2 separate regions of the Homo sapiens genome follow, and region 1 is linked to region 2. The links come from fine-mapping of genetic effects on gene expression. Tissue or cell type: tibial nerve. Region 2 holds a variant in brackets; the other region holds the start of a gene. All regions are shown on one strand. Distances are from middle to middle.

The links. PIP is the estimated chance that this variant, and not a neighbour inherited with it, causes the effect.
Region 1: it holds the start of NEPRO-AS1, and the variant in region 2 is fine-mapped to the expression of NEPRO-AS1 in tibial nerve (GTEx, PIP above 0.99). The same link has a PIP of 0.9 or more in visceral fat.

Annotation. Positions count from the first base shown.
Region 1 is chr3:113,017,103-113,022,251 of GRCh38, forward strand. It overlaps NEPRO-AS1 (NEPRO antisense RNA 1), which reads left to right and starts at 2,416. Exons shown (of 3, transcript NR_186663.1): 1 at 2,416-2,604. It overlaps RMP64 (ribonuclease MRP subunit p64), which reads right to left and starts at 2,569. Exons shown (of 9, transcript NM_015412.4): 1 at 2,440-2,569; 2 at 346-500. The coding sequence starts at 2,545. RefSeq lists an enhancer at 2,018-2,087 and a silencer at 2,248-2,357.
Region 2 is chr3:113,086,763-113,091,911 of GRCh38, forward strand. All of the region lies in intron 1 of NEPRO-AS1 (NEPRO antisense RNA 1), which reads left to right. All of the region lies in intron 1 of LOLI1 (lncRNA oncogene in liver cancer 1), which reads right to left. Among named protein-coding and RNA genes, the nearest start is that of LOLI1, 15 kb to the right of the region's middle. The variant C/T (reference allele first, on the strand shown) is at 2,474.

The DNA.
Region 1 (5,149 bases), 70 kb before region 2:
GTCCAACATTTTGTCTTGCTCAAATCACTTTATCTTTGAGCTGGGCAAAGGCACTGTTGTTATAGATTGTATATAATGAAGAAAATGTTTACTTGCCTATTAGAAACAAGACTGGGAAAGAATCTAAACATACTTCTTTTCTAACAAAAATTACTTTTTGAAATGCTGAAATGCTTTTAGGAAAAAAAAAGAAAGTGCACATGTAACTGTGGGCTATAGGCCTATAAAACACAAGTAATTTACTGAGATTTCCACGAGATTTCCATAAATAGCAATATAGTAAGTGGCAGTGTGATCTACATTTTCAAGTGAACAGGTTGGGTCTCACCTACCGGGCTTCCTCACCTGTTTGAGGGCCAAATGGGGTTTGTGGCGGCCCATTCTGTTGTGATTGCTGTAAAGGACTGCACATAACACATCTGTTTCTGCATCTAAGGTTTGGCTCTTCAGCGACAGTATGACGAGATGGCATTCTTTAATTACAGCTGCAATGCAAAGGTCTGAAGCAGAGACATCTAATAAGATTTAGTATGTATTTCTACAGTAAGTATATTATATTAAAAACACACTAAAAAAAGCATCTTTCCTTATTTGTTTTAAAGGAATCAAAAACTAATGTAATCAGTCTCAACTGTAAGAACGTAAGGATTCTAAGTATAAGAGAAGTTGGAAAATGGTAACAGATGATATAAAGTCCAGGAAATCATTAAGAGAACATCTGTAAAACAAGAAGCTGTATCTTTGCATTGCATTTTATCATGGTTTAATAATCTTTCATATGAATACTTTGCTGTCAGTCATTTGGTGTACACTTACGCCTCATGTGTACACTTAACCCCCACCTTGAAGGTAGGGCACATGTCACAACATGTGTAATAACTCTCTAACTCCCCATGTCGCTATGCCCGAAAGCAAGACAGAATGAATAAATTCACAGTCTTCAAAATCAAGGCTTCTGTGTTTGGATATCACTTTATGAGAGACACAAACATATTCAGAAAAGAAAAACCACCACAGTAACTGGAAATCGTATTATTTGATGAACACCGGGTGCTCATCAGCAGATGCTTCCTAGTCTGAAAATCTGTAGAAGTCCCTAAGATGTAGTTCATGTGTTATTTATGGCTCTAAAGGCAGCACTAGCATTCTAAATGGAAGTAAAGGCTGGTTGCTACCTAACAAGAATTTTCTTACTGTCCCAACAACTACCTGAAGACAGAATGGGCTGCCTCGGGGATGGGTAGTGAGTTGGTGAATTTCCCAGGCCTAATAGGAGTTGTTAAAGAATTTTTGAATAGAGAAAGAGGGAAGATTAATCTGTAAAGTGTGTAGGAAGGATAGATGGGATAATCTGTAAAGTGTGTAGGATGGATATATGGGAAAGGGGATGTGATGATCTAAGTCAAGCTTGTCCAACCCGCCTTATTTTGTTGTTCTGTTCTGTTTTGTTTTAGGCTTTTTGCAGCTTAAAGCCATGGTTTTTAGTTTGTCTCTAGTGAAAAGAGGGATGAGGAAAGGGCTTTACCAGCCCAACCGGAAACAAAGAACCCATGACTGTATTCTCTCCCTTGGGCCCCGGAGCTACGTATTTAATATTCATAACAGCTTCCATTTGAGTGTTCATTTACCATGCCAGGCAGTGTTCCAAATGCTTTCTCTACATTATCAACTCTTTCATCCCCCCAAACAGCCCTATGAGGAAGGTGCTTTTATCTCCATTTGAAAGTGAGATCAGTGAGGCACAGAAAGGTTCAATGACTCCTTCAAGCTCCAGCAAAGGGTAGAGCTAGTATTCAAACCCAAACAACCTGGCTCCTGCGCCAGGCTCCTACCTACTATATGCCCTTCACCCTAACAAATACCACCCATTTAGGTGGCAAAACACCGTCGTTTACAGCGCACTGTCTCCTAAATTACATCATTAGATATTCCCAACGCCCCTGTGAGGAGTAGGAGGACTAACTCCATTTCACAGATAAGCAGATAGAGGTCCGAAAAGATTGCAGTTTGAGTCCCAGTGCTTAGGTGACGTCCACCGCTCCTCGGGTACAGGAAAAAGAAGGAAAGGGGAAATGGACGGAAGGGTAAACAAGACTCCGAAGACCCGGGTGAGCAAGGGTTCCCAGGCAGCACTGTTCCCCGGCACCAGCTGAGTCCACCTCTCTCCGCCCCCTCAGCGCACGGCTGAGCCTTGGTCTTTCATCTCTCCAGCCAAGCCCTGGGTTAGCACAGCTGGTTCAATGAAGGAATGCGAAGCCAGAGGCCCTACAAGCTACACCAGCAAAGTGCTGGGACCGCTCGACCCCTACGTGCCCCGCGCCCCTTCCCAGCGTCCCCCGGGCCGGGAAGTCCCGGTACCACCCCCGCCCACATGCGCCGGCTGGGCCTGGCGGCCTCCCCCGGAAACGTTCCCCCATCCTCGCCCGGCGCCTCACTCACCAAGGGCCGCGCCGGGGTTCTGCACTGTCACTGCGCTGCGGTTCCCCGCCTTAGGGATTCTCACACGGTTCCACGGCTCCAGGCCCGGCGGCACCGCAGCCATCATGCGAGGCGGGGGGACTTACGAAAGGCGGAGCTACGCGAGAGCACGTCCAGCGACCGGAGGTGGGGCGATGGGACCCAGTCCGGGCCGGAAGGGAGCAGGGGGTGGGGCTCGGGCGGGGCCAGGAGCCCGGCGGGAGGCTGCCTTCATCGAGTAAACGCGTGGGACTGGGAAGGACCCAGTCATCTGTATATTGGTTACCAACACGTGGCCGCGTAGAATCATGGGGGAAAAAAGGCCCCATCCCAATACTAACCAACAGAATCTCTGAGAATGCGATGAGGAATCTGCGTTTTGTTTAAACTTAGCGCAGGGGATTCGGAAGCACAACCAAGTTTGGAACTGTTAAATACTTCTAGGCATTTTACAAATATGGAAAATGAGGCCCAGAATTGAGTTGGTGCTTTTACCCCCAACTCTGCCTCAGACATTAGGGGAAAAAGGAAGAAATGAAATGAAGAGGTTTGTGCAAGGTGTGGAATTTGTAGCGAAGAAGCAGTGATTTGCTTTGAGTGGTAAAGGAAGGCTCCTTTATGTCTTGAACCACAGCAAAACCGAGATCACATCAAAGAAACTTGGAAGACACCTGTCAGTCATTCCCACTTTTGTCAGTCTCCAAGACAAGATCATATTCCAAGCTCTAGTGATCCTTACCTCATTAATATCTTTCTAATAATTCATTTATCCTCAGCCATGCTAATGCCCCCTTAAGTTCTTAACACTCCCACAGTAACGTATTAGAAAAACAGTGAGTTTTGGAAACAGACTGCCAAGGTTCTAGTTCTAGCTTTGCTGTTTACTAGCTCGGTGATCTCAGGAAATTTACTTACCTCCTCCTCCAGACCTTAGTATCCCTGTGGGTAAAATGAAGATGATAATAATAGTATCAATCTCACAGACTTGTAAAATGCCAAGGCACTCCTGGCATACAAACAATGAACATTTACCATAGTTAATATTGTTGATGTTATTACTACTATTTCATGCAAGCAGTCTTACTTTATTGAAACACTTTCCATGCTCTTTCTGTGCGCCTTTACACATCTACCTACTCTACCTGGGTCATCCTCGGAAACACAATCTCCTTTCCTCAGCTCTGGGGTCGTCACTTGGGGTAATTCTTCCTAAACACCCCGTCCTCACTCCATAACTTGATACAGAGGCCCCTTTAATGTGTTACCACAGTGCCCTATGTTGGCCTATGTATTAGTTTTCTATTGCTGCTGTAACCAATTACGACAAACCTAATGGCTTGAAATAAGTAGAAGTTATTTTACATTTCTGGAGGTCAGAAGTCCAAAATTAATTTCAATGGACTGAAGTTGGCAGGGCTGGTTCCTTCCGGAATCTCTAGGGAAGAATTCATTTCCTTTCCTTTTCCAGCTTCTAGAGGCTGCCTTCATTCCTTGGCTCATTTCACTATCCTCCACCTTCATTGTCAGCATGACATTTTTCAGTCTCCTCCTCTTCCTCTGTCTCTCTCACCCTCCTGCCTGCCTCCCTCTTAAAAACACCCTTGTGATTACATTGAGCCCATCAAGATAATCAGGATAGTCACTCCATCTCAGAATCTTTAACTTAATCACATCTGTTTTAGAACTCCAAATTCAGGCTCATGTACCCGATGGGCAGCTGATGCCAAATATTGAGATACTGGTGCTTGGAGACAGAGAAATATTTATTCGATTTGACCAAAGTTAGAGGGCAAGAGAGCAAGATCTCTCAGATCCACAGTAACAAAAAAGAAGCAGGGAGTTTTTATGGAGCTAGAGAGTAATGGAGAGGGAGTTTCAAGGAATCCAAGGGAAAAGTCTGTGTTTCTTCCATTTCAGGTAACACCTTGTGCAGCCGTATGTACATGGCAGCTGGTTGCAATGTCCTTCCAGGAATTCATTCCTTCTGCAAACTATTCTTATGACCCTGAAGTTATCTCCTTCTGCTTGACAAAGAAACAGTACATCAGCAGTTTATAATTACATTGTGGGAACAAGGAATACTGGGCAAAAAGCGAGTGGTTAACATGTACAAGCAAGCAAGGGCCTGTTCAAAATTTTCATTATTTCATGCACACACACACACACACACACACACAAAAATGCTGGGGTGCTGAAATCTCAAGCAGCTGAAATCTCAAGGTTATATAGCTACAAAATCCCTTCTCAGTGCAAGGTAACATATTTACAGATTATGGAAATTAGCATGTGAACATCTTTGGGTGGGAGGTGGAGGGATCTTTATTCAGCCTACCACAGCCTCTCTCACAGAATTTACCTCGCTTTATTGTATTTCTTTGTTTACTTTCATGTCTATTTCTCCAATGGCATATGAACCTACTGAAAGCGAGAACTACCATTGACATAGCTAACTGGTCTTTCTATCTCAATGCTTAGTTCAGAGCCTGGCATATAGTAGGGCCTCAGTAGATATTTACTGGCTGTATATGAGGTTGGATGATGCTTGAATAGAGTCTTTTGAAGGATGAATAGGAACTCCCCAGGCAGTTAAAGGAAAAAGGATATTCCTACAGAGAGGTTTTAAGCAGCATGGGTTTGAAGAATCACTAGTCCTGAGTTGGTACTGCTGGGACGTGATTTGTGCTGAGGGGTG
Region 2 (5,149 bases):
GGCTCAGTTGAGGGGGCCTCAGCAGTGAGAGCTTGAAAAGAGGGCCTTTGGGTTATGCAAGGGAAAGGGAAGGTGGGGCGAGGTGGGGGCTGGGGGACATTTGAGGTGGGAGGGGTAGGGGGAAGGAGGAGAATAGCACAATAATGGGAAAAAGGAGGCTAGCTTCTGAGGTCTCATTTCTCACAATGAGTCCCATGTGGTTCTCTTTATCTCAGCCTTTCAGCAGTCAATAGAGGGAGCCTTTTTATTTTCAACTCTAACTATACAGCCACGCTACTCCCCCAACACACACACACACACACACACACACACACCCCTACCAGTGTGGGACAGTGAGCAAGACATTGGAAATGTGTGAAAAATTATTTCCCCTGCACAGGTTTGCTGGATTTTCTATCCTCCTGCCAGACCCGTACTTATGGGACATTCACTCCTCCACCACTGCTCTCTGCCTCTCTTGCCCCAGCTTCGCCCCCTAGACTTGATTCCCTCCTCCTCTATTATACACCCCTCCCCCTCTCCTCCGTGGATGCCTCAGAAACTCCAGAGAGGTTGAAGGGAGAGGAGGTTCTTGACTCTTTAGAAAGTCATGAGTCATATGATGACAGGTAAAGCAGAGATGGATGATGGAGTGATGTTGATTTGCAACCCATAAAAAAGCAAAAATAAAAGATCAAAGCAAACCCCAGCTTGAACTTTAGACTGTTTTAATGCATAGAAAAGAACAAACATATTTTTTGTGTGTGGTGGACTTCTCTGAAATGTTAAGTCCCCAATTGGACAAATCCCTTTCAATTTGTTCCTAAGGCTATGACTGAAGCAGCCACAGGCTCTGAATTTACGCAGCTTGATAGAAAATAATTCGTCTATTTTTCAAACAATATTGTTATATATTCTCATAGGGTGCCTGAGTTTGAATAGGCACAGCGTTCTTAACCAGGGGTGGAAGCTTTTAGAAACAGATTCCAGGCCTCATCTCCCCAAGATTCTGCTTCAGCAGCTGTGAATGGGGCAGTGTGTGTGTGTGTGTGTGTGTGTGTGTGTGTGTGTGTGTGTCAGAGAAAGAGAGAGACAGAGATTGATCTTGATGTACAGTGCCATTTGAAAATCTCAAAACTAAGTAAGTTGTTCCCCTTCAGCTACATCAGGGGAGTATTCATCAAATAACAGTCACTAGTTGTGCTGGGAAAATAGTTGATTAATTGAGCCAAACCTATCTCTGCTACCAAGCATTGTAGCTGGCTGGAAAAAAAGAAAGGAAAAAATAATCATGTCCATCATCAAGAAATGAAGATAAGGGGGAAGGTAAGAATAAATGAAAATAACAATAACCTCAAGTAATTGTTTAGTACCAGGCATTTTTTTCTACAAGAACGATTACCCCATTGGAAGCGGGAATGAGACTCAGTTGTCTTAAGCAACTTGCTCAAGGTCACACTCCCAATAAATGGCAGAGCCAGGATTCCTTCCTAGGCTTGAATGATCTGTGCAGCATGCTCTGAACTAGGCGGAGACCCCAGGAATGGGAATAGGAGTGAGACAGCAATCCAGAAACAGACTCTCCCATGGCAATAGGAAGGCTCCCGAGGGTTGCTCATGCACTCAACATCAATGAGCTGTGGGGCAGCTCCTGGCTATTGGCTTCTCATCAAGGACTCCAAACCTCTCCTCACCTCTTAAAAATCTTCTTGTCTCTTCCTCCTGATCCAGCTTGCTCTGCTAAGCAAAGTACCCCACACCAGGCATAGAAAGAAAATGGATATTGCCTTCATATTTTCTCTGAGCAGGGAGATGTATAGCTTTTAGGTCTCTCACATGATAAGAAAATCACAGTTGCCCTCTTTTTGGCTCCATTTCCAGTCTCTTGAAGGTGCAGCTGTGTGGCTTGGCCATGAGGATCGGAGAGGATATAAAGAGGGCAGGAGAGGGGACGACTCCCATTTTGCCACCCTGGCAGCTCTCAACCGGCTCTGCTCCAGCCAACTCTTCACAGTACTTAAAGTCCTTTTTCAACGCCACGAAGTGATGCTCTCACCGGGTTCAGATGAGCTCATCTCCTCTCTAACTACACTAAAGTGCCTCGAGGGCTGGAACACTGCCTCATGCTTCTCCATCCCTGACATGCTCAAGCCCAATGCTGATACAGTGCTCAGTAAATTATTGTCGTTTGGTTGATTTGCAACAAGTGCTTTTTAAATTGGAATGCTCAGGGTTGAAATAGTCCCTCAGTTGTTCCAGATCACCATTTTTTTTTTTTTTTTTTTAAGACGGAGTCTTGCTCTGTCGCCCAGGCTGGAGTGCAGTGGCGCGATCTCCGCTCACTGCAAGCTCTGCCTCCCGGGTTCACGCCATTCTCCTGCCTCAGCCTCCTGAGTAGCTGGGACTACAGGCACCCGCCACCGCGCCTGGCTAATTTTTTTTGGATTTTTAGTAGAGACGGGGTTTCACCGTGGTCTCGATCTCCTGACCTCGC[C/T]GGATCACCATTCTTAATTATCCTCCTCTTGCTGGTGTGCTACAGTTTCTGGATTCCCCCAGTCTAGATATATTAACCTCATGTGGCCTCACTGGACAGCCTCTTTGAGGCTGCCTTCATCAACACCTGTTACTCTGTTGCCCACTTCATTTTCCCCAGTCTGTTGTGTTGGCTCGACATCCCTGAGTCTTGCCCACTGTCTGCTGTCTTATTCCTGTGTTTGTTCTGACTTGACAAATTACTCTCATCTCAACTACTGTGTAGCAATACTTTTTATTCAACTTTTACCAATTTCCTAATACCATGGTCAGTGCAAATATTCTCCATTCTTTGGCTTTACCTCAAGTTTCCATCCTATTTTTTTTCTCTTTCCTAAAGAGAAGTCCATACATTCTAACTCTGTTATGACTTGCTTGCTCCTTAATCTCTTGTCATTTGGTTTCCACTCTTCATGCTGTGTTGTTCCCACTGGGAAAGGCACCATAGACTTGAAGAGTCTGTCCTTGATCTTGTCTTGCATGGTTTCTCTGCAGCCTTTGGTGCTGTGGACCACTGCCTGGTCCTGACACTCCTTCTTGCTTTTGCTGCCTTAATGCTCCATGTGTCTGTTTCTTCTGCTACTGCTATTTCTCCATCCAGTCCTTTCTGAGATTCAGTCTCTGCTTGGTTTTCCTTAGAGGCAATTTTCACTCCCATGACTTCAATTATGGTCACCTCTATGCCAGGTCACACTTCCAGTTGTCTACTGGATTTTTCTACTTGTCCATCCTACTATTATTAAAACTTGAGATATCTCAAACTGGATTTATTCCCCCTTCCAAAACTGCTTATTTTCTTCTACTAACTTCAAGGCTGAAGGTTTCTGCCCATCCATTGATTGTAATCTTCCATCAGTCATTAAAGTACATGATTCCTTCAGATCTATTCTCTATCCCATCTATTTAGTTTCTGCCACCACCCTAATTCTAACCCTTTTGTCACATGTATAAACTATTGAAATTAATCTGTTAAAATACTTTTGCAAAAATGTACTCTTCTACTCAAAACATCCAGTAGTTCCCCATTATTTACAGAATCAAATCCAACCTTCTTCACCTAAGGTTCAAGACCTTCCTTAATCTAATCCCAACTTTGTTGTTCCCACCATTTCTTCCTCTATTATATTTGCCTTAAAGAAATAAATCAGTTTAGTGAAACTGTTCTGCTCATAAGATCCCAAACACTTTATATGCACACAGTTGTTCATGTCCTTTCACCTACCTGCTACATCCATCCCTCATATTCCCATCTCTTCTGGCCTAACCTTCCTTCAAACCACCTTTCAAAAAAAGCTTCTTTGACCATCTCAATCTAAATTAACCTCTTCCTCCCATAAACTCCCTTTGACTCCATTAAGCTACTGACAGTTTATGAAATTATGTAAATTCCAGTTTATATGTTAAATGATTGCTTAATTTTTCTTACATTATCTTTCTAACTAGATTGTTTGCTTCTTCTGGATTTGATCCCCCAGCTGGCACCTGGCTCAGACTTAATTAATGCTGCCTGTTCTTGTCTGAGTTTCCATGAACTTATAAATACAAGTTGTTTTTGTAAATTGAGTCCCAAACCCATATGTTTATAAGAGCAAACACCTTGAGCAGGATTAACTATGTGCAGGTATGGATATTCTGTTGCATTTTTTTCTAAATAAAATCTTATTTATTGGCTACCTATTTGCCTCGGTCCGATTGTGCTGTTGTAACAGAATAGCGCAGACTGGGTAATTTGTAACGAACATATATTTATTGGCTCACAGTTCCAGAGGTTGGGAAGTCCAATGTTCAGGGATCTGGAGAGGGCTTTCTTTTTGCATCATAGCATGGCAGAAGACATCACATGGCGAAGGCAAAGAGAAAGATGAGGACCAAACTTGCCCTTTTATAACATTACTCCATGCATGAGGGCGGAGCCCTCATGGCCTAGTCACCCTTTAAAGGTCCCATCTGTTAATACTGTTAATATGGCAATTAAATTTCAATGGGAGTTTTGGAGGGAACAAACATTCAAATCAGAGCACTAGTACAAACACAGGTGTATGAGCCTCACCTTACACATTTTGCCTTTTCTTTAGCAGATCAGGAAAGGAGAAGCAAAGTAGACAGCAAGCTGTGTTCTCTTCCAAGCAACCTCATTCATTATACAGTGGCTAATTTCCTTCTTCATGCCAAAGTAACTGCACCGTTTAAAGTGAAAAAAAGGAAGAAAGAGAGAGACAAGAAAAAGAAGGAGGAAAGAAAGAAAGAAAGAGGAAGGAAGGAAGGAAAGAGAAAGGAAGGAAGGAGAAAGAGAAAGAAAGAAAAGAGAAAAAGAAAGAGAAGGAGGGAGAGGGAGAGAGAGAGAAAGAGGAAAGAAAGAATGAATGAAAGAAAGAAGGAGGGGGAGAGAAAGAAAGGAAAGAAAGAAGGAAGAAGAAAGAAGGAAAGAAAGAAAAGAGAAAGAAAGAAAGAGGGAAAAGAGAGAGGGAGGGAGGAAGGAAGGAACAAAAGAAGGAAGGAAAGATACAAAAGAGAAGAAAAAAGTAAGTTTGTATAATAGATCTGATTCTCTCCTCCTCTATTATACACATTCAAGAGTGTGGTGTGGAAAAAAATAGAAATTTACACTTGACAAACAGCTTTGCTATCTCTAGTAATG